2 separate regions of the Homo sapiens genome follow, and region 2 is linked to region 1. The links come from fine-mapping of genetic effects on plasma protein levels. Region 1 holds a variant in brackets. A gene starts in the other region. All regions are shown on their reverse strands.

Region 1 (15,217 bases):
ACCCCACTTCTACATGCAGCTTCCATTATGAGCACCCAGGAAGTGGGGTTCTCTCACTGTGCCGGGGTGGCAAAATGAGACAGACCAGCAATGCAGCCTCCCCGAGACCACCTCGTGGGACAGTGGCAGGGAGAAGTGGGGAGCCAGGTCTCCTGACTTCCAGCTCAGGGCCATCACCCCCAGCCCCTGTCCCAGCCAGCCTTCCAGGAAGGAACAGAATGGGTGAGGGAGATGTCCCCCTCCTCTGCCCTGTCAAAGGTTTAAATATGTGGGAAGAGGGAAGCGAGATGTTCATGGTGGGGGGATGATCCTGCCACGGTGCTGGGGGAGGTACCTCATATTCAGAAACTGAACATCTGGCTTCAAGTTCTGGCTCAGCCAAGTGACCTTGGACAAGTCACCTCATCTGTTTCCACCAGTGAAATGGGGTATCTCACAGGGTTGCTGTGAAACTTTGGGTGTAAAATAGCAGAGAAAGAGGCCGGGCGCAGTGGCTCATGCCTGTAATCCTAGCACTTTGGGAGGCGGAGTCGAGCGGATCACCTGAGGTCAGGAGTTCAAGATCAGCCTGGCCAACATGGTGAAACCCCGTCTCTACTAAAAATACAATAATTAGCTGGGCGTGGTAGCAGGAGCCTGTAATTAATCTCAGCTACTCGGGAGTCTGAGGCAGGAGAATCGCTTGGACCTGGGAGGTTGCAGTGAGATCATGCCATCGCACTCCAGCCTTCGTGACAAGAGCGAGACATAAAAATAAAGTAGCAGAGAAAGAGATTTGTGATTGGTAACGTGCAATACAGCACACCTTCTACAGGCATCGCCAAGCCCCGGCTGGCTCCTCTGGCTTCCTCCCACCTGTCCCCTCTCTGTGTCCCCACACAGTTTGCAGAGCCACATTCCAGTGCAAAGAGGACAGCACATGCATCTCACTGCCCAAGGTCTGTGATGGGCAGCCTGATTGTCTCAACGGCAGCGACGAAGAGCAGTGCCAGGAAGGTAGGGCAGGCCTAGCCGAGTGTCTGGAGGGACACCAAAGGCAGTCTAGGCCTGCTACATGCTTCAGCAAAAGTTTCTAGCTTCTCCTCTCAACACCCACCAACCCCTCTGTATTTACATCTGTATGTCTGTCCATTCATCCATCCATCCATCCATCCATCCATCCATCCATCCATCCATCCATCTTCTGGTCTCCAATCACCGTCTGTCCATTGATTCATACAGCTACCCATTTATCTATGCATCTACTGACCTGTGCAACCATCAATCTCCCTATCATCAAACTGTCAATCTACCCATTTATTGGTTTGGCTGACTACTGGTCTATATGGCCACTGTTCCATCCATCCATCCATCCATCCATCCATCCACCCACCCATCTACCCACCCACCCATCCACCCATCCATCATCCATCCGTCCATCATCCATCCATCCATCATCCGTCTATCCATCCATCCATCCATCCATCATCCATCCATCCACCCATCGTCCATCCGTCCATCATCCATCCATCCATCCATCATCCATCCATCATCCATCTATCCATCCATCATCCTTCCACCCATCCGTCATCCACCCATCGATCATCCATCTGTCCATCATCCATCCATACATCATCCATCTATCCATCCATCCATTCATCCATCCATCATCCATGCATCATCCATCCATCATCCATCCATCCATCCATCATCCGTCTATCCATCCATCCATCATCCATCCATCCATCCATCATCCATCCGTCCATCATCCATCCATCCATCATCCATCTATCCATCCATCCATCCGTCCATCATCCATCCATCCATCATCCATCCATCATCCATCCGTCCATCACCCATCCATCCATCATCCATCCATCCATCATCCATCCATCCATCATCCATCCGTCCATCATCCATCCATCCATCGTCCATCATCCATCCATCCATCCATCATCCATCCATCCATCATCCATCCATCCATCCATCATCCATCCATTCATCCATCATCCATCCATTCATCCATCATCCATCTGTCCATCGTCTATCCATCCATCATCCATCATCCATCCATCCATCCATCCATCCATCCATCATCCATCCATCCATCATCCATCAATCCATCAATCCATCATCCATCCATCCATCATCCATCGATCCATCATCCATCCATCCATGCACCCATCCATCATCCATCCATCCATCCATCATCCATCCATTCATCCATCATCCATCCATCCATCATCCATCCATCCATCATCCATCCATCCATGCAACCATCCATCATCCATCCATCCATCATCCATCCATCCATCATCCATCCATCCATCCATCATCCATCCATCCATTCATCCATCATCCATCCATCCATCATCCGTTCATCCATCATCCATCCATTCACCCATCATCCATCCATCCATCATCCATCCATCATCCGTCCATCCATCATCTGTCCATCATCCATCCATCCATCATCCATCCAACCATCCATCATCCATCCATCCACCATCCATCCATTCATCCGTCAGCCATCCATCCATCCATGCACCCATCCATCATCCATCCATCCATCCATCCATCATCCATCCATCATCCATCCATCATCCACCCATCCATCATCCATCCATCCATCTACCCATCCATCCACCCATCCATCCACCCATCCACTGATCTCCCTAGCCCCCTGTCTGTCCACTGGTCCTTATATCCACACGTTTATCCAACCTTCTAGCTGTCTGTCAGTCTCCCTAATGGACCACCACTCCACCCATTGGCTTGTCTGCTCAGTCTTCTGTCTGGGTCTATTTATCCATCCATCCATCTACCCATCCAACTGACCAACTGACCAACACTTGCAGGCTACCCAGCGATAGGCAAGGTGCAGTAAGGAAGTGAGAATAAAACAGCAGAGATGCAGGCCCTGCCTTCCAAGGCTCATCTGTTAGTAGGAGGATATGATGGGTGACTCTCCTGCCTTGTAGGAAGATTGGAGGGCAGGGAGGAGGTCAGACATGAAAAGCTTCCTGGAGGAGGTAGGTGTTTGGCCCTTGGTGAGAGCTAAAACTTAAATAGGCAGGAGGAAAGGAGAGAGGCAAAGACCAAGTGGTGGAGTGGAAAGTTCTTTACAGTGAAGAGCAGGGAGGAAAATGTGGACAACCGGGCAGGGCCAGAGCCTGGGAGATTGCCAGGCTAGGTGCGGACCCTGGTCTAAAAGTGGAGGCACAGTTCTGCCTTCAAGTTCCACACTGGAGGGGGAGGCATGATCTTGTGGTCAGGATCTCCAGTCTGAGAATGGAGACACCACTTTGTGCTCAATAGGCCAGTCTGAGTGGAGGGGCTGTGGGGGGCGGGGGGACATGGCCTGCTTTTAGGAGACCCTAAAGGAGACTCAGGAAAAGACTCTCTAGTCACCTCCTGGCTCTTCTGGCTCCATCGTTCCTGCACCCCACTTTGGAAGGTTTCCTTGGGGCTCAGAGACCCACCTTCTGTGCCCTGCCCCCATCCCCTCTGTCCCAGGGGTGCCATGTGGGACATTCACCTTCCAGTGTGAGGACCGGAGCTGCGTGAAGAAGCCCAACCCGCAGTGTGATGGGCGGCCCGACTGCAGGGACGGCTCGGATGAGGAGCACTGTGGTGAGCCCTGCCTGGCTGCCGGGGCCCTGGAGCTTGGGAGGGAGGGGGTGCCCACAGCAGGAAGCTGGAGGGAAATCTCACTGTTGTCCCCTGGTCTCTCTCTATCTCATCCTCTGCCCCCTTGCCTGGGTCCTGATGGTCTCTCCCCCTCCATCATTCTCCTGTTCTCTGTCTCTCCATCTCTTTCCTTTGCCCTTCCTCTCTGTCTGCTTCTCCCCTTCCCCTCCTCCTCTGTCCACCCCACCACCTGCCCCCATCCCCAGACTGTGGCCTCCAGGGCCCCTCCAGCCGCATTGTTGGTGGAGCTGTGTCCTCCGAGGGTGAGTGGCCATGGCAGGCCAGCCTCCAGGTTCGGGGTCGACACATCTGTGGGGGGGCCCTCATCGCTGACCGCTGGGTGATAACAGCTGCCCACTGCTTCCAGGAGGACAGGTGAGCGGGAGGGTGTGGGGGCCTAGGCAGTAAGAGACAAGGGCAGGGAAGGCCCGGTGGGAGGTGCACTGTGTCTGAGCTCTTTGCAGATAGAGGGAAGGGTGGTGGACCCCCCAGACAGGCTACTGTGATGTGAGTTCTAGTCCTGGCTCCACCAGGACCTTCTGGGTCCCCGGACACATTGTTCCACCTCTCTGCCATCTACTTTTGGTATCTTGCTTTAAGTTGGGCCAGTAATTCATTCATTCATCTCATTCACTCATTCAGCAACACTTGTGCTCCTACTATGTGCCAGGGCTGTGCTAGATGCTGGGGATTCAGTAAAGGACAGAACTGCCCAACCTGGTCATAAGCTATGACACTCCCCGAGGTGTGACACGAGGTAGCAGGTGGGGCTGGGGAGCCCCCAGGGGACATCTCATCAGGCCTCATGGCCATCTTTCCCATCTGCTTGGTGGGCTGAAACCTCCCCCAATCCACCCCCAGACAGATCTGGGCTCCAGATCCCGCCCCCAGGCCCTGCACAGGGATCCCCTTTTGTATCCTCTCTGGGACGCAGGGCGCTCTGACCACCTAGCTCTCTTTAACCCCATCTCAGGCTCCCCACTGCCCTCAGGTAGAGGGTAGAGACCCGAAGGCTGCCCATCTGCCACCCAGGCAGCTGACTGCCGCAGTCCAATTCCTCCACGCTCAACTCCCACCCGCTCCCCACTAGGACCCACCAGCCTCAGGGAATTCAGAGCAGCCTGGGTCTGTAAAGCACACAGGAAAAAAGAAATCTGTGTCGGGGGCCTGGCACTGTGCTACATTTTTTAGATACACGGTCTTATTGGATTCTCTCAAGAACATTCGAGTAGAAAATGCCATTCCCATTTGCAGATGAGGTGGCAGAGGCTTAGAGAGGCACACCCATGTCTAGGGAGGGATGAAGCTGGGGCGTGGAACCCAGGCAGGCCGAGTGGGTGAAGGCTGAACGCTGTACCACCAGCTAGGCGACCTTCAGGGAGGGAAGGGAGGGCTGGGTGTGGAGGGCACTGTCCCGGGCGGGGATCTGGCTATCTTGAGGGTCCCTGGATGGGGAGAGGCAGCTTCCTCCCACCTCACCTCACCCCACCCCACCCCACCCCACCCCACCCCAGCATGGCCTCCACGGTGCTGTGGACCGTGTTCCTGGGCAAGGTGTGGCAGAACTCGCGCTGGCCTGGAGAGGTGTCCTTCAAGGTGAGCCGCCTGCTCCTGCACCCGTACCACGAAGAGGACAGCCATGACTACGACGTGGCGCTGCTGCAGCTCGACCACCCGGTGGTGCGCTCGGCCGCCGTGCGCCCCGTCTGCCTGCCCGCGCGCTCCCACTTCTTCGAGCCCGGCCTGCACTGCTGGATTACGGGCTGGGGCGCCTTGCGCGAGGGCGGTGAGCAGCGGGGACTTGCGGCGGGAGGCGGAGGGAGACCGTGCGGATCTGCGCCGTAACACCTGGCCTGGAGAAGGGCGGGGCTGGGGGTCCCGGGGCTCCACCCCATAGGCCCTCTAGTGCTGGGATTCAAATTGGGCTGAATTTTACGGTAGAAAACCACCATTTAATGCGGCCTGTAGGCCCCTGCCCCTCCCCTCCTAGCTCTTCCCTTCCTTCTGGAAGGGCGTTATGTGTGGGGCAAAGGGGCAGGTCTGGGACGCCACTGCCCACGTGCAAGCTCCACCTGCTGTTCCTTGGGCTGCAAGGGTGGAAGGCTCTTAATTACTAGCACTTTCCACATCCAGGCTGGATTTTAGGGGAACTTGACTTCATATAATCCACCCAACAGCCCTACGGGCGGATGCTGTGGCCCTATTTTATGGATGGAGAAACCAAGGCTCAGAGACATGTTGCTGTAAGTCACACAGCCAGAGAGGACTGGAGCAAAGATTAGAACCCAGGGCTGGCTGCCTCCAGAGCCCCTGCTCTTCCTGCTACTGCTCTCAGAAACAGGGTCTCTCCCCTTTCTACGTTCACTGACCAGAGTCCCTGGCGGCCACCGCACAGTTTTGGGGACACAGACCCAGCTGGCAAACCTACAGACATGCCCTGCAGCGTTAGTGTTGGTGGCTTCAAAAATGTGTACAGTGACTTACAATCTGGAAGCAGGCGGGGCCGCAGAGATATTTTAAGGATGGGGAAACTGAGGCTCAGAGGAACAGTGACTTACCCAAGGGGATGGCAGTGGTCATGGCAAAGCAAAGGCTGGTTCATTCACTATTCCTTCACTCATTCAGTCACTCAATGACACTTTCTGAGCACCAAGTACGTACCAGGCGTGGGGTTAGGGGAAGGGTACATAAGGATGAAGAGAGAACATTCTCGGGGGAGACAGACAGTGGTAAGAGCTGACATGGATGGGGAGATGCAGGAACAGTGGAGACACAGAGGAGGCTCCTGCCCAGCTAGGGTCAGGGGAGGCTTCCAGGGGAGGGTTGTTTAAGCTGAGGCCTGGAAGATGAGTTGGCAACATTCAGACAAAGGGGAAAGACATTCAGGTGAAGACACAGGTGCCAAGACAGGAAGATGTGAGAACATCCGCAGCCTGCCAGAGGGGCTGAGGTGGGGGGCAGGCGTGCCTGGGCGAGGAGCAACCAGAATGGCAGACAGGGCCTTGGGCGAGGAGCAACCAGAATGGCAGACAGGGCCTTGCCGGCCAGCATAAGGATCTTAGGCCAGGAGTTCTCCCTCCTACCTGCACCTTAGAACCATACGGGGAGTTTCAAGAAAAACTGCGTATCAAGGCTCCCCGGGGGACTGTGATATGCAGCCCTCGTGGAGAAGCGCTAGGGCAGACTGCAGAGTTGGGGCACTGCAGAGTTCTAAGGAAACCATGAAGGGATCAGATGTGGGCTTCGGAGACATCTGCAGGTGCTGTAACAGAGCAGCGAGGAGCCAGCCAGAGCCCAGAGGTGCCTCAGCAGACAGAGGTGGGGGACAAGAAGCTGGAGGAAGACACTCATCCACACGGGCTTTTTTCTTTTTTCTTTTTTTTGTTTTTTTGAGACAGAGTTTCGCTCTTGTTGCCCAGGCTGGAGTGCAATGGCGCGATCTCGGCTCGGATCCCCCTCCTCCCGGGTTCAAGCGGTTCTCCTGCCTCAGCCTCCTGAGTAACTGGGATTACAGGCATGTGCCACCACACCCAGCTAATTTTGTATTTTTAGTACAGACAGGGTTTCTCCATGTTGGTCAAGCTGGTCTCAAACTCTTGACCTCAGGTGTTCCGTCCGCCTCAGCCTCCCAAAGTGCTGGGATTACAGGCATGAGCCACCGTGCCCGGCCCTCCACATGGGCTTTGGTCGGGGGCTGTCACCATGAACCCCACAGAGAAAGAGCTAGAATAAAGTGACAGGGAGGCAGAGGGGCAGGTGCGACCCTAGCAGGGGTAAGGGTGGGCAGAGCAGGAGAGAAGTAGGCTCCTGAGATGCAAAGGGAATAATGTTAGGGAGAATAGAGAACAGGGGCTCCAGGCTCCTGAGATCTCACTTCTGCCCTTGACCACGGACAGGCCCCATCAGCAACGCTCTGCAGAAAGTGGATGTGCAGTTGATCCCACAGGACCTGTGCAGCGAGG[T/C]CTATCGCTACCAGGTGACGCCACGCATGCTGTGTGCCGGCTACCGCAAGGGCAAGAAGGATGCCTGTCAGGTGAGTCCCCCGGGCATGGGAGGGAGAGAGGAGGGAGAAAGGATGCTGCCCACATCACCAGGGTCTGGCCCTTTGCTCACATCAGCCTGCTGAAGCCTCCCATCCTCCCAGCAAGGTGGTGATGGCCACCCCTACTTTACAGAAGAGGAGACTGGGGCTTAGAAAGGTTGAGGAGCTTGCCCAAGGTTGCAGAGCCACAGATCAGAAGAGATGCTGTGATGGGCAGGTGTTAGGCTCAAACCCAGTTCTGCTCCTTGCCCACCACAAGGCACTAGGCCCAGGGTCCCACAGTGAGGTGGATGCATGGAAGAAGAAAGGGGTGTCAGCCACAGAAGGGAGGCGGAGGCAGAGTGGGGGCGTGGGGACACAGCCACAGTTCCAGGAGGTCCCAGGCTGGCTGGAGGCCGGGGAGGGCTGGCTTGGGCTCTCTCCATTTAGCAGGCGAGGGGAAAGCAGAGCTTTAAGACTGAACGTGACTCTGGCACCCAGTCAATTCCCAACAGTCAGGACTTAATCCCTATGGCTCTTCACCTGGAAAAGGGGGTGCCCTTACCCTGCTTCAGTCCTTTCTCCTTTCCCCCTTTCAGGGTGACTCAGGTGGTCCGCTGGTGTGCAAGGCACTCAGTGGCCGCTGGTTCCTGGCGGGGCTGGTCAGCTGGGGCCTGGGCTGTGGCCGGCCTAACTACTTCGGCGTCTACACCCGCATCACAGGTGTGATCAGCTGGATCCAGCAAGTGGTGACCTGAGGAACTGCCCCCCTGCAAAGCAGGGCCCACCTCCTGGACTCAGAGAGCCCAGGGCAACTGCCAAGCAGGGGGACAAGTATTCTGGCGGGGGGTGGGGGAGAGAGCAGGCCCTGTGGTGGCAGGAGGTGGCATCTTGTCTCGTCCCTGATGTCTGCTCCAGTGATGGCAGGAGGATGGAGAAGTGCCAGCAGCTGGGGGTCAAGACGTCCCCTGAGGACCCAGGCCCACACCCAGCCCTTCTGCCTCCCAATTCTCTCTCCTCCGTCCCCTTCCTCCACTGCTGCCTAATGCAAGGCAGTGGCTCAGCAGCAAGAATGCTGGTTCTACATCCCGAGGAGTGTCTGAGGTGCGCCCCACTCTGTACAGAGGCTGTTTGGGCAGCCTTGCCTCCAGAGAGCAGATTCCAGCTTCGGAAGCCCCTGGTCTAACTTGGGATCTGGGAATGGAAGGTGCTCCCATCGGAGGGGACCCTCAGAGCCCTGGAGACTGCCAGGTGGGCCTGCTGCCACTGTAAGCCAAAAGGTGGGGAAGTCCTGACTCCAGGGTCCTTGCCCCACCCCTGCCTGCCACCTGGGCCCTCACAGCCCAGACCCTCACTGGGAGGTGAGCTCAGCTGCCCTTTGGAATAAAGCTGCCTGATCCAAGCCCCGCTGCTGGAGTTTGAATGGGACCCAGGCACCAGCCTCATGCCCTTGACTGGAGCAGCCCCTGCTTCCTGCTCAGCCTGTTTGACAAGTGTCCAGAAGGCCAAGGTGGGCTCAGTGGCAGTGGGCGTGGCCACTGAGGGCTGGGGCCTGCAGGGCAGCTGCCCAGGTCCCAGAAGAAATGCCAGGAAGGCAATCATTTGGGGACCCTCAGGTCAGAGGGATGTGAGGAGCAATCGTCTCCTTTTGGAACCTTAGGAGGAAACTGAGGCTCAGAGAGGCGGTTAAGACATCCTCATAGTGGCACTGGGGGTTAGGAGTGGAGGTGGCATAGACTCCTGTCTCCCAGCTCCCTGTCTGCCAAGGCCCCGTCCAGTGCGACACTCCCTTCCTTTGCATTCTTTGAGCCACTGAATAAAGCCTTGGGCTCCAACCATGTGCCAGCACTATGCTGGGGCCACAGGGGTGAAGGACCTGGCTCCTGACCCCAGGAGCAGTGGGGATGATCCAGTGGGAAGGGGCCGGAGGGGAGCGTGGACTGGGCAAGTCAAGGCAAGCTGCCTGGAGGCTGTGAGACTTGAGCTGGGGTTCAGAGGTGGTCCAGGTGGGAATATCCGGGAAGGATATTCCAGGCAGGGAAGAGCACGTGCAAAGGCACAGTCCCGGAAGAATGAGGCACGCTAGGACCCAGCAAGCCGAGTGAGTGTTAGAACAGAGCTCGAGAGGATGACTCAAGAATTCAGAGGGGCGAACTGAGGCGGGATAGCAGAGCCTGGGGTTGAGCCAAGGATTTGATCTTGAAAGCTCTGGGGAGCCACGGTGGGCTCTATAGCATAGGAGTGACATGAGAGGATTCACATTTTGGAACCAGCCTTGGCACCAGTGTGCAGGGAGCGGCAGGCAGGGAGGCTGGTTAGGAGGCCACCGCAGGATTCCAGGATGGAGAGGATGGGCCGGGACTGAGCAGCGCCATGGGATGGACTGGAGGATGATTTTAGACCCCTGGGGGCAGTTGTGATGGAGGCAGGGGGCTCGCTGGAGGTGAGGGTGGACGGTCAAGTGTGGACAACTCTTTCTAGACGCCTAACTGGGAGCGGAAGGGAGAGAGGGAGCTTCAGAGGGGCCCCAGACTGAAGAGGGGTTTTTCCAACATGGGCGCTGCTGCCAGGTCTGTGGGTGAATGAGGCAGAAGGGGAACCAGGGACGGGGAGCACCCACCTGGGTCCTGCCAGGACGAGCCGGAGCAGCTGGGTGGGCAGGGAGCGTCTCCAGAGCAGGTGGGCAGAACACATGCAGAATACCTTGGGTGATCTGGAATCACCCTGGGCCCTACCTCAGTCTTCATCGGAATCCTGGAGGGCGGGGGACGTGTCATCTGTTCTCCTAACAAGCCTCCTGGTGACTCTTTTGCAAGGATAGTTGGACCCTAAAAATGAGTCCAGCTTTGGAGTGGAGTGTCCTCAGGGGAAGTGGCGAGGCCCTCCAGGCTTGAGCTGGCAAGAGGGTGCCCCCGCCCCAGCCTGTGGAAGGCCTGCGCCTTAGGGGCTCACTGCCCGGCAGGATTTCCTCGAGCAGCGGGGAGGACTGAGGAGTTGAAGGAACTGGCCAGGGTGGGTGGAGGGTCTGGGGTCTGGGCTGGGTCCAGCAGGGTCAGAGAAGGGAGAGGGCGGGGTGTTTATATTTCCTAGGATTTTGGGCAGAGGGGTGGCAGCAATAGGGAGGGATGGCGGTGGCCCAGGTGTCAGAGTAGAAGTGGAGGGGGCGCGCTGAGAGGTTTAGGATGTGGCAGAGGCAGCCCAGGGCTCTCCCTAGAGTTCTGTTTTCTGGCTCCCGGCCAGGTAGGGCAGGTGCTCTGGTATCCGGCCCCAGGGCAAAGGATATAGCCAGTTCCCCAAGCCCTCCCTGCAACACACACAGGAAAATGACAACAGGGCAGCGTCCCTGGGCTTTTGGGACAAAGCCGCGTTCCTTTGGACCAGACTACCACACCTTTAGTTTAGCCCCGTCCCCAAAAGTGGCCCAGAGAAAGAGGGCAACAGCCAGGCTGGGCTGTTCCTTTGGGTTTTATTACATGGTGGGGTCGGACACAGCTGAGAAGCAAGGACCCATCCCGGGAAGTCAAACACAGGAGGGCCCCTGGCTCAGCCGCCATACCCACTCTCCCCGGGCAGTTCCTGAGTCCTCCACCGCCCCTGCCCAGCCCCTTCTGCTGCCTCTCCCCGCCCCCCAGGCCAGGCGCTGGGCCAGCAATGCAAATGGCTGGGGGTGGGATCACCAAAGAGAAGGCCAAGCCAACTACCCCTACTCTGCCAGGCCAGCTCCCCACAACCTGCATCCCCAATACCTGAATCTCCATTTGCAAACACAGTGTTATGCCCAGGGGTCGGGCTGGGTCCTTCCCATCCCAGGGCAGCTGAAGGTGGGCGGCCCCTATATACTGCCTGAGGGCCTTCAGGGACTTTGCTCCTCTGTGCACCCTCACAACAACCCTGTGAGGTAGGTGGGGTGGGAGGAGTGACCCCCTGGACTAAGGCTCAAGGAGGCAATGTGACCGGGCCAGGAAGGAGCACATCCACCATGCAGCAGGGGAGCCCGGGAGAGGGGACGCAGGTGCCGGAGAGACACAGCCAGACATTGCCACACATCTGCCATGAGCAGTCCACTCTGCCCAGAGGTCCTGGGGCCCACCTTGGGCCTTAAGAGGTCCCAGGGGGGCCCCGCCCCGCCCCTGGAGGCAGGAGTAAGTCACAGCCCCACGGGTGCAGACAGAGGAGGCCGGGGAGAGGGTGCTTCTTCCTTCTCAGGCCCGGGGCCCACCCCATGGTACAAAAATAAAGGATTTCAGATGGGAACCCCAAGTCCCTGGAGGTGATCTGGGGCCTCACATCCGGGTGCCTCTGGCTTGTAACAGCTAGAAAAAAAAGAGGGGAAGGGCAGGAGGATGGGAGGGGCGGAGGTGGGGCCGGTAAGGAGGGGGTGATGCAGGGCAAGGGGGCGGAGAGGAGATTGACGGGTGGGGGAGAGGGAGAGAGAGAGAGGCAGTTGAGTCACAGGCTTCCTTCTGGAGGAGGGGGTGGGGCTGAGGCCCAAAGAAGGTGGATTCAGAACTGAGTTGGGGGGAGCAGCAAGGGCTCCCCAACTAACCCATCCAGGAGCCCCATGCCCCGTCTTGGGCTCGGTGGCGGCCACCTACAGAGGCCAGATTCTGCCAAGACTCTGAAGGGGGTGGGATGGGGGTTGCTCAGGGCTGGGAGAGGCACTGATGCCCCAGGCGAAAGAAGCCACAGGGAGCAGCTGTCTGTCCCAATTTTAGAGGCAATTGTGGCCCAGAGAGGGACAGTGACTTGCCCAAGGTCACAGAGCAGGCAGAAAAGAGTGGGATAGGGGGCTTGTGGGCACATGGCCAGGGCTTTTTCTGCCACTCTGCAATCCTTAAGCCACTCTGGCTGACACTTCATGGGCCAAGGGTATCCAAAAGTGGCCTGTCCTCCCCATCCCCACAGAAATAGGGGATGCCACAAGGCAGTGACACAGGAGCTCCTGGATGTGCAGGGACTTGGCCAGGGCCTCTGGCTTCAGCGGTCCCTCCCTCCCCACCAGCCTGGCTCTGGTGCTGATGGGCTGGTAGGAAAGTTCCCACTCCCTAACTTTCTTCTCCTCTCAGAGCCTCACCCCCAAGGCCAAGGTCGGATGAGAAACTTTGGTGGGTGGAGATAATCAGCCGAAAGCTCGGCTCAAGTCCAAGGATCAAGAGATGAGCACCCTCCTCGCTCCACCCCTCCCTCCAGCACCGCCAAGCTACAAACCAGGGATGGCAGCTCTGGGGGCGGGCGAGGGGCCGAGGAGAAGCCCTCACTGCAAGCTCAGCCTCAGGTCTGAGAGGGTGCGGACGGGAACCTGCAAGGAGGAAACGTGAGGAGGAGGCCGGGAGGAGAGGAGGGGGGGCAGGGCCTGCAGCCAGGGCCCAGTCTCAGAGGTGCCCGGCAGGGTTAGTGGGCACAGAGGAGGTGCAGCTGCGCCCCTCCTCCCCAGGCTGGGAGGCAGGAGGTACCAGAAGGGGCGCAGGAGGCGGCAGGCAGGACGCTCTGGGATGCAGGGCCAGGGGGCCTGGGTGGAGGGCACGGGAGGCTGGGACCAGGGCAGACCCGGGATGGAGGCGTGAGCAGGCAGAGAGAAAACCCGGACAGGGGCAGAGAGGGAAGAGGCAGGGTGCAGATGAGATCCAGGAGGAAGAAGAGGTGGATGAAGATGAGGCAGGACCTCCAGCGGGAAGCGGAGGAGGAGGCAGTGGTGGGAGGGAGAAAAGGTTAGCGGGATCCTGAGATGACTGGGCTGCAAAGAGAAAGTGAGAGAAGGGATGGTTATGCGGGTGAGGCGCCAGGCAAGTGGCTGAGCTAACCCTGGTGCCCCCCCAGCAGCCCCGGGGCCCCCGGTTCTGCAGCTGGCTCCAGCAAGGAGTGGGCGGGAGGCTCCGGCTTTGCTTAGCAATCATCCTCCTGGGGGTTGGCTGCACCTTTCTCCTGTGCATCTGCCTCCACCTGCACCTGTTCCACCTCCACCTCCTCCACCTCCTCCTCCTGCTGCTGCTGCTCCTCCAGCTGCTCCTCCGTGCTCTGTGAACCAGCCGGCGGACCCAGGGAAGAAAGAGTGGAGACACTAACAGAGGGGCCAGGGCCTGCTGGCTATCCCCAAAGACCCGGTCTCAGGCAAGGTGAAAGGGACCTCAGGAGAGGGGAGGGCTCCAGCCACAGAAGCTGGGGGCATCTTCTCCGGTCCCCTGGGCAGCTTGGGGAGGGCCTGGGGAAAGCAGCTGAGGATGGGATGCTGTGGGCATGCTCCGGGGTCAGCCTGGCTGCTGTTACATAGAGCGAGGCTGGAGGGAGGGGATGAAGCAGAACAGGGAGGGTGTGGGACTGGGGTATCCCTGAGGGGTGCCTGGGAAGGCCTTGTTTGGAAAGACTGCTCCTCAGTAGAAATGTGGCCAAGGAAGCCCCAGGGCAGACACCACCCAGATCTGGGATGCCAGCCAGTCTCTGACACCCCAGGTCCAGGGGCTTTGGCCCAAAGAGGCAGAAGGAGCAGTCTCGCTCTGCACCCTTGCAGGGCAGCGTCAGCCCTGGCAGTGGTGGGGGTGGGTGGGCAGGCAGGGTGCGTCACAGCAGGACAGGGAGGCAGACAGATAGACAGGAAGCCAGAGGTAAGCCTCCACTGTGTGGGGTTGGGCCCCAGGAGGAGCAGCCTGCCTTCTTCCCAGCCTGGTTCACGCCTGCTCTGTGGCTCTGCGAAGGCCCTTGGGACTTCCCACAGCACTGGGTCCAGGATGGCAGGACCCCCGCTCAGCCCTCTCCCCACAGTGGTACAGTGGATGCTGCCAGGGTGCTCTCAGGAGGCTGCCTCAACAGGCCAGGCGGACACACAGGACTGGCAGCCACCAGGCTGCCCCTATCCTGCAGAGCAGCCAAGGAGGGGGCCTGGGAAAGGGGCAGGATTTACAGCGGTGGCTTCCTCATCCTGGCTCAGGCCAGCTGGGGACATGCACCTGTCCCTGGGGAATAAACGGCCATTTGGGATCCCAGAAGTTCCAGGCTCCAAGGCACTACAAAGAGTATGTGATCCTCCCCTCTCACTTCAGAGAGTGCAGCAAAGGTGCTGGGAGAGGACAAGCCCTGTCCTAAGTCACACAGAGAGTGCCACACTGTGCCCTGACCCCTAGTCCATGCCACAGTGCCCAGTGGCCACTAAGCGGCCCCCTTCATGTAGCCTCTGAGTCCACGCCGGCTGCACCCTGGGGATGCTCTCATTTCACTGCTCCCAGCCTGGGCCTGGGTAACGGCAGGTGGCATGGGATGGATGGCGGTGGCTGTGAGCATGGGGTTGTGCATGGGCGGTGGCGGGAGAGAGGTGGAGGGATGGTGCAGGCGCAGGGGCGGGACAGGCGGGGAGGGTGGAGGGAGACAGGAGACTTCTCCGGACACAGGCTGAGGCGGGTGGGCTCACCTTGGTTTTGCGGCTGGACTCTGAGCTCAGCCCGTTTGGGGTGCTGTGGAGCTCCTTGGACACCACACACAGGAACTCTGCCTGGTCCTCGCTGCCGTAGTTGTAGGAGGAGCCGATGTTCACCAGCT
Region 2 (15,217 bases), not on the chromosome of region 1:
GCTCACTGCAACCTCCACCTCCTGGGTTCAAGCGATTCTCCTGCCTCAGCCTCCCAAGTGGCTGGGATTACAGGTGCCTGCAACCAAGCCTGGCTAATTTTTGTTTTTGTTTTTTTTTTAATAGAGACAGGGTTTCACCATGTTAGCCAGGCTGGTCTTGAACTCCTGACCTCAGATGATCCACCTGCCTCAGCCTCCCAAAGTGCTGGGATTACAGGCATGAGCCACCGTGCCCAGCCTAATTTATACACTAAAGTCTTTTATATTTTAATTTTGGCCACTAACTCCATTATGTGACATTCCTGTTTGTTTTGTTTTGTTTATGGTATCAGTAAAAACTCTTAAGTTGTAAGAGGGAAGAAAGTGTAAAAAAAAAAATTCATGAAAAATGTAATTAATTCTCATGAGTGCACAAACTCTGGAGGCTACAATAGAAGTTTTATATGGAAAATCCAATCAATACAGTAATTTTCAAGGTTGGGAGAGGGGATGCTCATGGACAAATGGGCCTCTGACATCTACAGAATTTTTAATTTGGTTCATCTACCTTCAGAAAACCTTTCACAAAAACATGACATTTGCTATAGAAAGATCAAGTAGTTTATTCCCTCACACATACAAAAATAGGAAACTGAGGCTTACAGAAGCTAGATTACTTACCTTGAAAATATATATATACACATATATATATATTTTTTTTGAGCTGGAGTCTCGCTCCGTTTCCCAGGCTGGAATGCAGTGGCAGGATCACGGCTCACCGCAACCTCCGCCTCCCGGGTTCAAGCAATTCTCCTGCCTCAGCCTGCAGAGTAGCTGGGACTACAGGTGCGTGCCACCACACCCAGCTAATTTTTTTGTATTTTTACTAGAGACGGGGTTTTACTATGTTGGCCAGGATGGTCTCGATCTCCTGAACTGGTGATCCACCCGCCTCAGCCTCCCAAAGTGCTGAGATTACAGGTGTGAGCCACTGCGCCCAGCCAATTTTTGTATTTTTTGTAGAGACAGGGTTTCCCTGTGTTGCCCAGGCTGGTGTCTTAGAACTCCTGGACTCTTTAGCCCAGCATGGTGGTACGCACCTGCAGTCCCAGCTACTTGGGAGGCTGAGGCAGGAGAATCACTTGAGCCTGGGAGGCAGAGGCTGCAGTGAGCTGAGATTGCACGACTGCACCCCAGCCTGGGCAACAGAGCAAGACTCCATCTAAAAAAAAAAAAAATCCTGGGTTCAAGTGATCCTCCCACCTCAGCCTCCCATGTCACTGGGACCACAGGCACGCACCACCACACCTGGCTAATTTTTGTATTTTTTGTAGAGACAGGGTTTCTCTATGTTGCCCAGGCTGGTCTCTTAGGACTCTTGGACTCAAGTGATCCTCCCAACTTGGCCTCCCAGTGTACTGTAATTACAGGCATGAGCTACTGCATTATTAATATATAAATGCATCAAACAAATGTATCGGGGATTCCAGTGGATTCTAAGTGGACTTGGACATGTTGGGATGTGCCTGGAACACTAGTGGGCATGGGCCGCCCATCTGCATTTGCAGGAGAACTGAAAAATATCCAGAAGGCAAAACCCTTTAGGAGCTACAAGAAGCAGGCCCTAGAGGAGAGTAAGGCAAGTGAGGCATGCAGGACACAACATTTAAGGAGGCCTCACTCTCAGGAGCTGTCCCTGCACTTTCACGAGCCTGCGAGAGAGGGCTTCCTTAAATTTCCCACTGATTCCTCTTTTGTCTCACCAAGTCACAGCCCTGGTAAGAAGCCAGAAGTGGCTGGGCTTGGTGGCTTATGCCTGTAATCCCAACACTTTGGGAGGCTGAGGCAGGCGGATCACCTGAAGTCAGGAGTTTGAGACCAGCCTGGCCAACATGGTGAAACTCTTGTCTCTACTAAAAATACCAAAATTAGACAGGCATGGCGGTGGGTGCCTGTAATCCCAGCTACTTGGGATGCTGAGGCAGGAGAATCGCTTGAACCTGGGAGGCGGAGGCTGCAGTGAGCCGAGGTCGCACCACTGCACTCCAGCCTAGATGACAGAGCAAGACTCCGTCTCAAAAAAAAAAAAAAAAAAAAAAAAAAGAAGCCAGATGTGTCCAGCTTGTTCCAGTGGTCAGAATTGGGCACAGAGTTTTATCATAAGAACGTGTTGCAGCTACTAATAGGAGTAAAAAGAAAGAATTTACTACAATGATGTAGCAGACATTTGTAATGCAATGTGAATATTTTGTTGTACAGATGGGGGTGGGGTGTCTTGCTGTGTTGCCCAGGCTAGTCTCAAATGCCTGACCTCAAGTGATCCTCTCAACTCAGCCTCCCAAAGTGCCAGGACTACAGGTGTGAGCAAATTGCTGAGTCTTGATGAGGGTAAGGGTCATGTTCCAGGGTCAAAGTCCAGCTGAGAGTCATCGTGAGGATCAGAGTGGGGGTCAGTGTCAGAGTGAGGATAAGGAGTGTGAGGCAAACATTCAAAGCCTGGGTCAGGGCGAGGGTCAGAGTCAGTTTCAGGGTCAGAGTTCATCACAGAGTGAGAAAGACTTAGTGCCAGGGTCAGGCTGAGTGTGTAGTTCAGGCTCAGCATAAGTTTCAGATTCACAGCAGGTTCAAGGACATGGTGAAGGTATGGATAAGGGTCCTTATAGAGTCAGGGTGAGGTCAGGATCAAGGAGACCATAAGGGTCAAGTCAGGGTCAGTGGAAAGTAAGCAGCAGAGTCAGGGTCAGGTAAGGGTCAGATTTATGGTCATGATGAGGGTTATGGTGACATTAAGATTTCCAGGCCAGGGGAGGGTCAAGTTGAGTGCCACTGTAGGGTTAGCTTCAATGTTCGGTTGGGATTAAGGGTGATGCTAAAACTGAAGGCAAAAGTGAGGGTCCGGGTCAAGTACAGAATCAGGGTCAGGGTGAGAACGAGATAGAGTGTGTAAGTGACAGTCAGGATCAGGGTCTGGTGAGTGTCACAGTCAGATGCAAGGTGAGAGTGAGCACCAGGGTAAGGCTCAGGTGTGAAGGAGGGGGTGGTGTCAGAACGAGAGCAAGGTCAGAGTCAAGGTGAGAGTGTATGCTTCAGGGTCAAGAGTCATGGTTAAAGGCCAGGTGCAGTGGCTCACACCTGTAGTCCCAGTGCTTTGGGAGGCTAAGGTGGGAGGCTTGCTTGAGGCCAGGGGTTCAAGACCAGCATGGACAACATAGTGAGACCCCATCTCTACAAAAAATACAAAAAAAAATAGCCAGGCATAGTGGCATGCACCTGTGGTCCCAGCTACTCAGGAAGCTGAGGTAGGAGGATCGCTTGAGCTCTGGAGGTCAAAGTTGCTGTGAGCCATGCTGGCACCACTGCACTACAGCCTGGGTGACAGAGCAAGACCCTGCCTCTTTAAAAAAAAAAAAAGTCATAATTATGATCACTGTCTAGGTCAAGTTGAGGATCAAGGGTCAGGGTCATAGTGAGGGTCAGAGTCAACATCATGCTAAGGGAAGGGTCAGTGAAGGTCAATTTCAGGGTAAGGGTCAGGGTAGGATTCAGGTTGAGGGTCAGAGACAGGGTGAAAATTAGGATCAGGTAAAGTTTAGGGTCCAATTCAGCATCAGGATCAGTATAAGAATGAGAATGAGAGGCAATGTCAGTGTGAGAGTCAGGGTCATTGTGAGGGCAAGGTGTCCATTATGATCAGGGGCAAGATGAAGCTAGAGGTGAGGCTCAAGTTCAGGGTCAGCTCTAGGTCAGGTTCAATATGAGGGTGAGGATAAGGGCAGGGTTATGGCTATAATGTTTTACCATTTATTTACAATCTTATTTCTAGTATTAATTCAGATACTGCTAAGCAAAAGAAGGTTATTCTTACTAATTCTAATTTATTTTCCTTCAGGAACAGTAATGGATTTGGGGCACTCTCTGCTTTAGTTATTTTATTTTTATTATTATGAACCATCAGGTTCATATCACCGTCTCTGAAAAATCAAAATATCCCCAATTTTACTTCTTGTAGATTTATAACCAGTCACTTCGTTGATAGTAATATGAGAGCAGAAAGTGCAGGTAACAGATTTTTCTGTCTTAAAAATATTTTTTGCAGCTTCTCAATTGCACAAGCTTATGGAATGGTCGGAATGGAGTTTCAATGTTGAACTTCCCAGTGAGAATCTTTTCTACCTTACACCTGTAATTGGTCATTTTCCTTTGAGCACCTGAGAAGTGCTTAGCTCAGCAGCTCCCATAGCTGGATAGTTATAAAGGTATGGAAAATTCCTCTTCATGAATTGAGCCAAAGCGGCTTCTAACATTCTTTTCAGCTAAGCTGAAAGACAAATACAGTGGTCCCTCCGTATCTGTGGGTTCCGCATCTGTGGATTCAACCAACCAAGGATGGAAAATATTTGGGGAGAAAAATGGATGGTTGCCTCTGTACTGAACATGTACAGGCTTTTTTTCTTGTCGTTACTCCCTAAATAATACAGTGTAACAACTATTTGCACAGCATTGACGTTGTAGTCGGTATTGTAAGTAATCTAGCCATGATGTGAAGTCCACGAAGAGATGTGCGTGGGTTACATGCAAACATTTCGCCATTCTGCATAAGGCACCGGAGCGTTGTGCTGTGCGCTCTCCTAGCGTCCCCCACTCACTTTCCTCCACCCACACACACCAGGCCAGGTCTCTCTTGCAAAGGTGAGGCTGCCGACTACTGTCCCGCCTGAGCGGGCTCTGGTCCTCACTCACAGACTGAGATTTCCTGAGAGGTGCCGTGGAGAAGGCCCCAGACTCTGCCTGGACCACCGACCCCAACCCAGAGGAGCTCGCCGCCTGCTTCCCTGGGAGGCGCCACTCTCCCAAGCTGGATCTAGGGCCGACCACACCCCAGGGTTGGAAGCACCGCTGGGGACACTGAGCGGGTTCCCTTTCCACCCTGATCCAGGCTGCAGAGACCTACAAAACAACAGTCGGTTCACAAGTCCCAGAGGAAAGCTTGCTGGAGGTTGGAACGAGGAGCAATCCCTCTGGGCCCCAAACTTTTCCCGCGTTAGAGAGAACACCGAAAAGGTCCAGAACTGCGCCCTCCAGCTCCCCGCGCGCACCCTGAGCCGCGTCTGATTGCTGTGCGGCGCCTCCTAGCCGCGCCCCCGCCCCGCGCACCCCCGCCCCCGCTCAGCACCCCGGGAACCCCCTCCCCCCGCGCGCCCCCGCCCCGCGCACCCTCCCCCGGAGGGCCCTCCCCTCTGCGCGTGGAGGCTTTTCCTGGAGACTGCGCCGCGGGTCTAACACCTTCATTTCGTTTTTAAAAAGCTCTTGAGTCTGGCCCGTCCCTGGTTCCGCCCAGAGCCCTAAAATAGAGGCTTCGAGTCTGGAGGTCTGGGAGAAAGGGAGCTAGACCGGGAATTGATCTGAGAAGCTTGGGGTGGGGGGAAGGCGGATTCCTCTGCTTCCCAATCCTGGCATCTGCGCCCAGGGATGTTGGAGCCAAAGGGAAGTGGCTTCCCCTCCTGAAATATAAGGGGCGCGCTAAAGGGTTCCCAGGATCCCTTCCAACTCTAAATTCCTGCGATGCCTGGGGCTCCGGGGAGGTATTTTGCGGTAGTCAGAGTCCGAAGATCCTAGAATGTAGTTTGAGCTGGGGCTAAGGACAGGGGATTGAAAAGTCGAGGCGGTGGACCTGGCGCAGGATGAACAAGACTGGGAGACTTCCAACAGTTTCCTCCTCGACAAGCAGGTCACAGGACAATGTCTGGAGGACTTCTATCCCCCTTTCTTGTTTCTGCCACCCCCTCCCCTGCAGCTCTGCACTCTCTCTAGTCCCGCCTTCCTGGCCCTCGTTCAGCCTGTTTTAGTTTAGAATCGCTGCCCGGTGGTCACTCAAGGCTGCTAACCTCTGCTGTAAGGAATTAAGCTTCCAAGAGCATATCTAAGAAGGAGGGCGGAAGGAAAGGGACCGAGTGCCTCCACATGTCAGGACAGACCATGAAAGAGAAGCCAGGAAGTCCAACAAAACCAGCACTGGTCTTTATTGAGGTGTCAGGGTAGAGTGGCAGGAGCACAGCCTAAGGACATGAAGGTCAGAGTTTCTCAGAGAGGAGGGGCTGGGTCCCTGAGCTAGGAGGAGGGCGGTGGGTGACTCGGGAGCTCATGAGACTTCAGGAAGTCCCTGTACTTGGCCAGGAAAGGGTTGGCCAGAGTGTTCAGCTCTTGCCGAAGCTCCTGCAGAGCCTTGTCTCGCTCTTGGGGCTCCCCTGTCACCTGCTGCCTGTAATAGTTGATGTAGAAGTTCATCCAGTCCTCCACCACAGTCACCATGTCTTCTTCAGAGACGAGAGGATCATTGAAGACCTGGGGGGTTGCGGAGAGGCAGTTGGCAAGGGAGAATGTGGTCAGCAATGGGATTCGGGAATACTAGAATAGTGCCACAGCACCAACTCTCACATTCTCTTTCCTCTGCATTGTATCCCGTGTCTCTCGTTGTTTCCATCAACTCCACCATTACTTCACCAGCTCCAATTATCCTCTTCCTCCACTTCCCCGGCACCCCCCAGTCTCCAGGCCAGTCCTTTGAAATGGAAAGCTTGGACTCACCTGCTGATTCAGCAGAACGCTGAACTCCTTCAATCCTGCGGAAATGAGATCCTTATTGGCCTTAAGAAGAGCCATCTGCCTGGGTAGAGAAAAGGGTAGAATTTACATATCTGTTTCCCTCCTCACTGGGTATTTCCCCCAACCCACTTCCTCCCCTTAAAAATCCCTCCTGCCCTGCAGGGCTATCTCCTTTCCAAAACCTTTCACATCCTGCCCTGCTCTGAGGTCACGATTTTCCCAGGTTGGGCTCACCTTCAGGTCTAACAGGCTGTATATGTCTCACCCACACTCTTGAGGGTGCGTGAATCTCTCTGTGCCAAGCTATAGATGTAGGCAAGGAGTCAAGTGTCAGCCTAAGATAGAAACGCCCTGCATCTAGGTCCTGAAGGAGGGTGATAGGTCATTCTAGGGAGGAGAAGAAGGGAGAGGCTTCCCTGAAGGTAGAAAGATAACAAGGCCAAAAAAAAAAAAAAAAAAGATAAATGAGGAAACCCAGGAAATGCAAGAAGGCAAGAGCCAAACCAGGGGCATGTTCCTGCTTTTTGCCCCATATTTCAGTATCCAGGCTCGAAATGCTATGGAAATTGACGTTTACTGAGCCCTATTACATGACAGAGGCTTTTGTGTAATCACAACGATGTGATCGCAATGATTCTCCCAATTCGGAGATGATGTATTAATAGCAGCTTGCATTACATTTATTCATTTGTGCCAAGCACTGTTTCAAACATGTACAAAATATTTATCCTATAAAATTTCTTTTTAGACACATTTTGCAGATAAGCCACCTGTAAGCGTGTGGACTGAACTCCACCACGCTGTGCTCCATAAGAATGGAGATAAATAGCCGGGCGTGGTGGCGGGCACCTGTAGTCTCAGCTACTTGGGAGGCTGAGGCACGAAAATCGCTTGAACCCAGGAGGCAGAGGTTGCAGTGAGCCAAGATCACACCACAGCACTCCAGCCTGGGTGACAGGGCGAGACTCCATCTCAAAAGAAAAAAAAGAATGGAGATGGATTTGTCTTGTTTACTACCCTGTCAACAGGTACCCAATAAAGCAGAAATACTCTTTTTCCTCTTTTTAAATATTTTTCCAGATATTTTCCATTTTCAGTAGATGTTTCTCAAATTTCAAAATCACTATATACTAATTGAAATAATTAAAACAATACAAAAACGTACACTGAAAAACTGAATCATTTTTGCCCCCTCCAAAGTAACCAGCATTAAACATTGTATATTTCCTGTCACTTTTTTTTTCCATTCAAAACCCAACATTCATAGGTGCCTATACACTCATAAAGCTTTGTTGATTTGCCTTTTTGGTTGTAGCATTTTTTAATCAATATACAGCAAAACTGACTTCCTTTTGGTGTACAGTATATTAAATTTTTTTTTTTTGAGAGGGAGTCTCCCTCTGTGGCCCAGGCTGGAGTGCAGTGATGCGATCTCAGCTCACTGCAAACTTTACCTCCCAGGTTCAGGCGATTCTCCTGCCTCAGCCTCCCAAGTAGCTGGGATTACAGGCGTGCATCACCACGCCTAGCTAATTTTTGTATTTTAGTAGAGATGGGGTTTCACCATGTTGGCCAGGCTAGTCTCGAACTCCTGACCTCAAGTGATCGACCCACCTTGGCCTCCCAAAGTGCTGGGATTACAGGTGTGAGCTACCGCATCTGGCCTAGTTTATTAATTTTATAACAGATTTGTGTAACTACAAACGCAGTTAAGATACAGAATGTTTCTGTCACCCAAAAACCACTCCTTCACGTTACCCTTTTGTAGCCACCCCTACCCTCACCCATAACTTCTGGCAACCACTTATCTGTTCATCACTACAGTTAAGCCTTTTTCAGGATGTCATATAAATGGAATCATACAGTATGTAACCTTTGAGACTGACTTTTTTTGGTCAGCATGATGTTCTTGAGCTCCATCCAAGTTGTCACAAGTGTCAGTGGACACATTGCATTGTATGGATGCACTGTAGTTTGTTCATTCAGCCACGGAAGGACATCTGGATTGTTTGTACTTTGGGGCAAGTGTGAATAGAGTTGCTATAAACATTTGTGTACAGGTTTCCATGTGAACATGTTTTCATTTATATAGGGTGGAAAGTATGTGTTACCGGCCAGGCACGGTGGCTCCCATCTGTGATCCCAGCACTTTGGGAGGTCAAGGCAGGCAGATCACTTGAGGTCAGGAGTTCGAGACCATCCTGGCTAACATGGCGAAACCCCCTCTCTACTAAAAATACAAAAATTAGCCAGACATGGTGGCATGCACCTGTAATCCCAGCTACTTGGGAGGCTGAGGCAGGAGAATCGCTTGAACCCAGGAGGAAGAGGCCGCAGTGAGCGAAGATCACGCCACTGCACTCCAGCCTGGGTGACAGAGTGAGACCTTGTCTCTAAATAAATAAATAAATAAATAAATTTATTATCTTACAGACTTAGAGGTCAGAAATCTAAAATGAGACTCACTAGGCTAAAATTAAGTTGTCCTCTAGGCTGTGTTCCCCTTGGAATCTCTGAAAAAGAGTTCTTTTTCTTTCCTCTTCTAGTCTATAGAAGAACCCACATTCTTTCACTCCTGGTCCCTTTCCAGCTTGAAAGCCAGCAATGACCACCAGGTCCAGTCTTTCTCACATCACACCAGGCCGACTGTCTCCTACATCCTTTCACTTCTAAATAATTTTTCTTAAATATTTCTTTAAAAATAATTCATTACCAGATGGGAAAGATCAAGATCCCAATGCCCTTCCAAAGCTCATTAAGGAAAAGTTTCAGGAAGGTCTCTGGTACATGCCAGGAAACTCAAAAGAGATGGTGCTGCCTCAGATGGCTTAGAAGACCATGCTGCCAAGAACACATCTAACATTGAAGCCACGCACAGTGGCTCATGCCTGTAAGAGGCAGAGACGGCAGGATCGTCTGAGCCCAAGGGTTCAAGACCAGCCTGGGCAACATAGTGAGACCCCATCTTTTAAAAAAAAAAGGAAAAAAAAATCTAATTTTGTTCATTCCTCAAAATTTCCTGGCACAGTTGGAACTAATCTAACTACCTGGACTATAATGAATTGCAGAGTAAAATTAGTGAGATGTAGTGAAGAATTGAAGTCTCCTCCCTCAACCAGTGTCTTGAGAATAGCAGGGGAAACTGATTCCCTTTCAGCATGCTAGATACATCAATAAAGGAAGGGTTGAACGTGAGATTACAAAAACACATTTGCTAAAGAATTGTAGAAAACCAGGATCACAAACTCATTCTGCAACAGAAAAATAAAGCACTGCTGATTTACAGAGGAATTCACTTCTGGTGATGTCTCTTAAAAATTAAGAAACCTAATAGGAACTCCCTCATCGAGGCAGGCTCTGCTTCAGCTGAACAAGAAATTAGCCAGAGGGAGGAAAAGAGAACTGTTTGGACTTCCAGGAAGGCCTCTCCTTCCACCGAGAGGACTGCAATGAAGACCTCAATCATCAGGGAAAGAAGAGCCTTCTCCAGAAATCTGATTGGAATTGATGACCCAAATCCCACTCAGTCAACGCAAAACCCTGACTTGCTCGTGGCAGTACCAGGTTGGAGTCAGGGCAAAAAGGTTGTAGATTTCATGTTACATAGTTTGGCCCATGGTTTCCCCTGTGAACATTTTGGGAGGGAGGTGAGAGCTGAACTGGTTAGGTGGAACCTTGGTCTTATTTCCTGGAGATGTGACGTTTTTGGGGCCTGTTCCTGCTGTGACTGGCACAGCAATCAGGACCTGCAGCCTCCAGAGGGTCCCAGGGCTGGGGAGGAGACATGAGCCTTGCGCATCTGAAGGTCAGCGTCTTGGCAGCATGGCTACTCGCAAGAGGGAGGAGCTCACTCTGGATCCATTCGAGAGAGACTTGTCCCTTCCCCCTCTTCTGCCCCACCCCTGGGCCACTTTCCTGTCCCCTGACTCCCACTTGACTTTGTTTTCACTAATTGGAGCTTAGCTCAGAAAATGGAGGGGGCTGAAGTTATAGGTTATGGGAGGGGAAATTTAAGTTTGGGAAGACAGAGGCTCCCTTGATTGGCACTATCAGCCACATCTGCAGCCACATGAGGGTCTCAATGCTGGGGCAGGGGGCAGTGAGACTGGCCAGGAACCTGAGTCCCCCGGGGACTCGCAGACACCTGCCCCACACATCCTGAGTGTGCTGAGGGAGACCCAGCCGAGATCAGCTGTGCTCCTGGGTAGGTGAGAGCAGGCCCTGCAGGGGGCCCAGTCCACCCAGGAAGGATGCCCAGAGTGGCTGAGTGTGCACCTCCCTCTTCTGCCTCTCCTTTTCCGCTGCAAGCAAGACCGGGGGTCAGGAGTTACAGGTGCCAGAGTCCAGAACGGGCCCCTCCTCCCCAGCAATGTGGGTGGGGTCAGGGGCTCAGGTCAAATTCAAGGAAAATCTTCAAGCCACATGGTGTAGAGCCAAAGCTAAAGAGGCCGCCCTAATAATAGACAGCAGCAGCCCCTTACAGATATGCTCAGACTCATAGGGTCTCAAAATGCAATTCTCCACAGTAGAAAGGACATCTGCCCTGACAGAAGACTGCACTCCTAGATAAACAGGGGTCATCTGGCCCATTATTTAAAGGTAGACCCGTATGTTCAGATTATGTTAGTGGAATAAAATTCATGACATGAACATTTTCTTTGGAAAGAAACATCCCTTAAATGGCTCCTGGAGCCTAAAACATCCTCTGGAACTCCCTTGAGGCCATGTACGTCATGACTGCTAAAATTATGATGAGAACCAAGTCTTATTTTCCTACAGGTAAATAGAACAAATGGAGACAAAGGCCTGGGCAGCCCCACTGCATGTTTCAGGAGGAAAAGTAATGTCAGCTAGGGATTCTTTCCTTTAACTGTCTTCAAATTCTTTCATCCAATCCTTCTAAAGAATCTTTGTGTATACTCCCACACAAGTTTTGTAGACATTTATTTTTGCCTCATACATTTAAATCATAGCAAAGGCTTTTAATTGTGACAGGATCCAAACACATTTAAACAAACCGCACATCGCTCTTTTGAATGTGTCCAACACAATGTTAATGGGGTGGTGATTTGGCCCTGACCACTATATATTTTTTTAAAAACCAAACAGGTTTTTCCTTAGCAGCTGGGAGTTTTACAACATGCCTTTTACTTCTTGAACTTGTATTTCTATTCCACTATCCCCACTTAACTTTATCCTAAGATAACTCACATGCTTTTGTGCTTGTATTTTGTTCACTCCCATTCTACTTACTTGCAACTTCTCTCATGTGCTGTGTCTTTCTGTTGGTCTCTCTGTCTCACTCTCTCTCTGTATAAATACATGGATAGACAGCTCTGACATATATATTCAAGAGGAAATTTATATATATATATAACATATATAGACACATATTTAGTAAAATGCGGTTTACCAAAGTGAATGTTTCAAATTTTAATAAATATTTATGAAACAGAAATTCCAATTGTATTGGAAATAAATCCTCTAATCAGATGGATGGCATAGAATTGAGGGAATTGTTGAAGGGTCCCTATTCTGGTGGTCTGGGACAACGCCCCTTGTAAATTTCAGGCAGGTGAGATTGGCAATTGGGAGAAGGAAGGAAACGTGAGAAGGGCCCAGGGGCAGGGACTCCCCTGGACACCGTTTCCGGGCCTAGTTGATTTTGAGAATGAGTGAGTATGGACTTCAAAGAACTGGAATTTGATTCTCTAAAACTTCCCAGGACCGCATACCCATTGGAAGGGTTCTTCCTGCTCATCTCGGGACCATGGTGTTCTGCCTACAGGGGTCTCTGAAATACCTGGATTAGTAGGAGACAGCTGAATTCTCACAACTGCTTCTGCTTTGGGGAACTCCACCCCACACTGCAGAGCAGAGGAGAGTGAAAAAGTTAGATAACATGGAGTGTCAATTCAGACATGGTTTGGCCTCAGAGATGCCATTCTGCGACTATCAGGAGTCCCTGCCACACTGAAAACCCCTAATCCTGATCAAGGAAACCAAGCTTCAAGGGATGTGGGGAGCTGGAGACAGGTGAGATGCAGGGGGGTTGTTACGAAAGGCATAATTGGGCATGAGCCGCTGACGTCTCTTGGTGTAGACTTGGTTGAGAGTAGACAGCAGTGGTGTAACTGACAGCAGAGCAGACAGATCATCCGGAGTGAGCAACCACTGCCGGCTGAGCTTGGGTTGGCTCTTTCTGGGCTCTGGTGAGGGGGGTCTCAGTGGGAAACCCCACAAGGGTAGACCCTGGAGGCAGCATCCAGGCTGGAGGATTTGGGGGCATCTTGGAGACAAACTGAGCTGGGGTTCCCACAGGAACCAGTTAAGGTGCGGGCTGGGCTAGCAGCTGGATCTGTGAATTGTACAAGGGACCCTGTTTGGTCACTGAAAAGAAAGGCCTCACCCCCTTTGCTTTCAAAGTGATTCCCCAACCCCCATATTTGTAGTATTCAGGGGCATGCTCCTGAGGTTAAAGAGTTTGTAAATGTGCTTTGCAAATCATTTGAAACTGACCTTCTTATAGCGACTGTACTTAACATCTAGTATGGAAAATAGGACCTATGAGACACCTTCTTTCCATCCAGAGGAGCAGAGTTAAAGGTCCCCTATTTCTCTTACACAGCAGCAACTGTGTGTTTGAAAGGTCAGCTCCATGTGTGACCTATGTAGCTTAGAAAGACTGTAGCACCCTGAGGACAGGACAGCAGCCCCGAAGCTCGCTCTGGGAGTAACTCTAGCTCTCACACTTCATTGGAACTTCCCCTATATTTCATGAACTTGACATAGTTGTTTTGCCAACCAGAATTTTGAAACTAATGTTTATATACTTTAAAAGGTTTTTTGTTTGTTTGTTTTGAGACGTAGTCTCGCTCTGTCACCCAGGCTGGAGCGCAGTGGCGCGATCTCGGCTCATGGCAACCTCCACCTCCCAGGTTCAAGCGATTCTCCGGCCTCAGCCTCCTGAGTATCTGGGATTACAGGTACCTGCCACCACGCCTGGCTATTTTTTGTATTTTTAGTGGAGACGGGGTTTCACCATGTTGGCCAGGCTGGTCTCCAACTCCTGACCTCAAGAGATCCGCCCACCTTGGCCTCCCAAAGTGCTGGGATTACATACATGAGCCACTGCACCAGGCCTTAAAAACGTTTCCTTAATCAACCAAAACTTTTTAAATTGACTTGATAAAAATGCTGTAGTGGAAAAAGATGTAGATTAGTATTTAGAAGACTGCTCTATGCACCTGAACCCTCCTCATTGGACATGGCTGGCTACTCTGAACACTGTGAGAATGAAGGACAGAAGCCATATACTTGGCTTTTGGCTCTTTGTGGAAATATAAAAAGTAGGAGGGAAATACCTCCTGCTTGTGTTTTAAGAACTTTTCCCCTTCTCTCATGTTTGATGGGGGTAATAACCTTGTTCCCATATAATAGGCCCGGTTACTAACAGCACCCTCATCAGCCTCTCACACAGGTCCCTCTTTGGCCCTTGAACCCCATTCTGGCCTCACCTCATCCTCCCAAAAACATCACCTACCATGTTCCTCCCACCTAAGGTATTCCAAGCTCTTGTTAACCTTGGTAATGTTTAAAAAAAATAAGTAAAAAATAAAAAAATACTTTAGGGAAATTAAGTTGAACAGGATTTAATTGAACAAAGAATGACTTGCAAACCAGGCAGCTCCCTTAACCAGAATGGCTCAGAAAAACTCCATGCTGCTGTGTGGTCAGAGAGGATTTATGGACAGAATCAAGAAAGTGACATACAGAAAATGGTACAGAAGTGGGATACAGAAACAGCTGCATTGGTTACAATTGGCATTTATCTTATTTGAACATGGTTTGAACAATTGGCCAAAGCTCAATGATGGGTACAAGTTTAAACATACATAGTCTGTTCATACACTGTTCCAGCATCCCTGAGCAGTTGGTGTCTCCCTGGACTGTTCACAGACTGTTATCACCTGTGGGCTTGGGTAGGAGGGGTTCCCAGATAGTCTCACACCAGGCAAGTCACCAACTGAAGGAATTACTAAAACAGTATGTGACTGTTTTTAAGGTACCCAGAGAAAGTGGGTCAGATGCAGGCGATAAAGTGTTACTGAAGGCAGCCACATCTCAGCTCACCAGAAAACAGGCTGTGGGCTCTTAAAACAGGTTACAGTGTGTATTGTGCCCGTAAAAATGTTATCCATCAGACAATAGCCACAGCTGCTCTATTCAAAGGCTGAATACCCTCCCTGCACTTGTGGAAACACCATCTCTGTGGCAACAAAACACATGAGGAGACAAAGGCTTAGCTACATATTTATGGGCTGTGGTCTCCAGTGAGACACCCCAAATCCACATTTCTACTTTTGTCACTGCTGTCTTATTGTAATTAAAATTGTAAAATATTTTCATATATTTTATTCTATTTTAAAATTTGTATTCCACTCATTTCTATTTCTATTCATGAATCAACAGTACACTATTTTAATTCCCATGGTTTTTATTTATTTATTTTTTTTTTTCCTATGGAGTCTTGCTTTGTCACCCAGGCTGGATTGCAGTGGCATGATCTCGACTCACTGCAACCTCTGCCTCCCGGGTGCAAGCAATTCTCCTGCCTCAGCCTCCTGAGTAGCTG

Which allele goes with the higher level. Positions count from the first base shown, and alleles are read on the strand shown. Strength reflects both the effect of a copy and how common the allele is.
For the plasma level of the protein whose gene starts at base 6,879 in region 2, allele C in region 1 goes with a higher level than allele T (moderate association).

The links. PIP is the posterior inclusion probability: the model's chance that the variant is causal. The UK Biobank Pharma Proteomics Project read protein levels with antibody pairs (Olink). The fine-mapping took linkage between variants from a reference panel, not from the people measured, so its PIPs are less certain.
Region 2: AHSP starts here. The variant in region 1 is fine-mapped to the plasma level of the AHSP protein (UK Biobank, PIP above 0.99).

What each region holds. Positions count from the first base shown.
Region 1 is chr22:37,059,311-37,074,527 of GRCh38, reverse strand. It overlaps KCTD17 (potassium channel tetramerization domain containing 17), which reads right to left. Exons shown (of 9, transcript NM_001282684.2): 5 at 15,090-15,215; 6 at 13,606-13,705; 7 at 13,353-13,424; 8 at 12,899-12,989; 9 at 11,138-12,003. The coding sequence ends at 11,934. It overlaps TMPRSS6 (transmembrane serine protease 6), which reads left to right. Exons shown (of 18, transcript NM_001374504.1): 13 at 883-996; 14 at 3,496-3,612; 15 at 3,876-4,044; 16 at 5,184-5,455; 17 at 7,566-7,702; 18 at 8,290-9,092. The coding sequence ends at 8,448. Among named protein-coding and RNA genes, the nearest start is that of KCTD17, 15 kb to the right of the region's middle. RefSeq lists enhancers at 10,440-11,263, 12,116-12,973, 12,974-13,831. The variant T/C (reference allele first, on the strand shown) is at 7,632.
Region 2 is chr16:31,519,562-31,534,778 of GRCh38, reverse strand. It overlaps AHSP (alpha hemoglobin stabilizing protein), which reads right to left and starts at 6,879. Exons shown (of 3, transcript NM_016633.4): 1 at 6,817-6,879; 2 at 6,565-6,643; 3 at 5,976-6,321. The coding sequence starts at 6,639. The coding sequence ends at 6,088.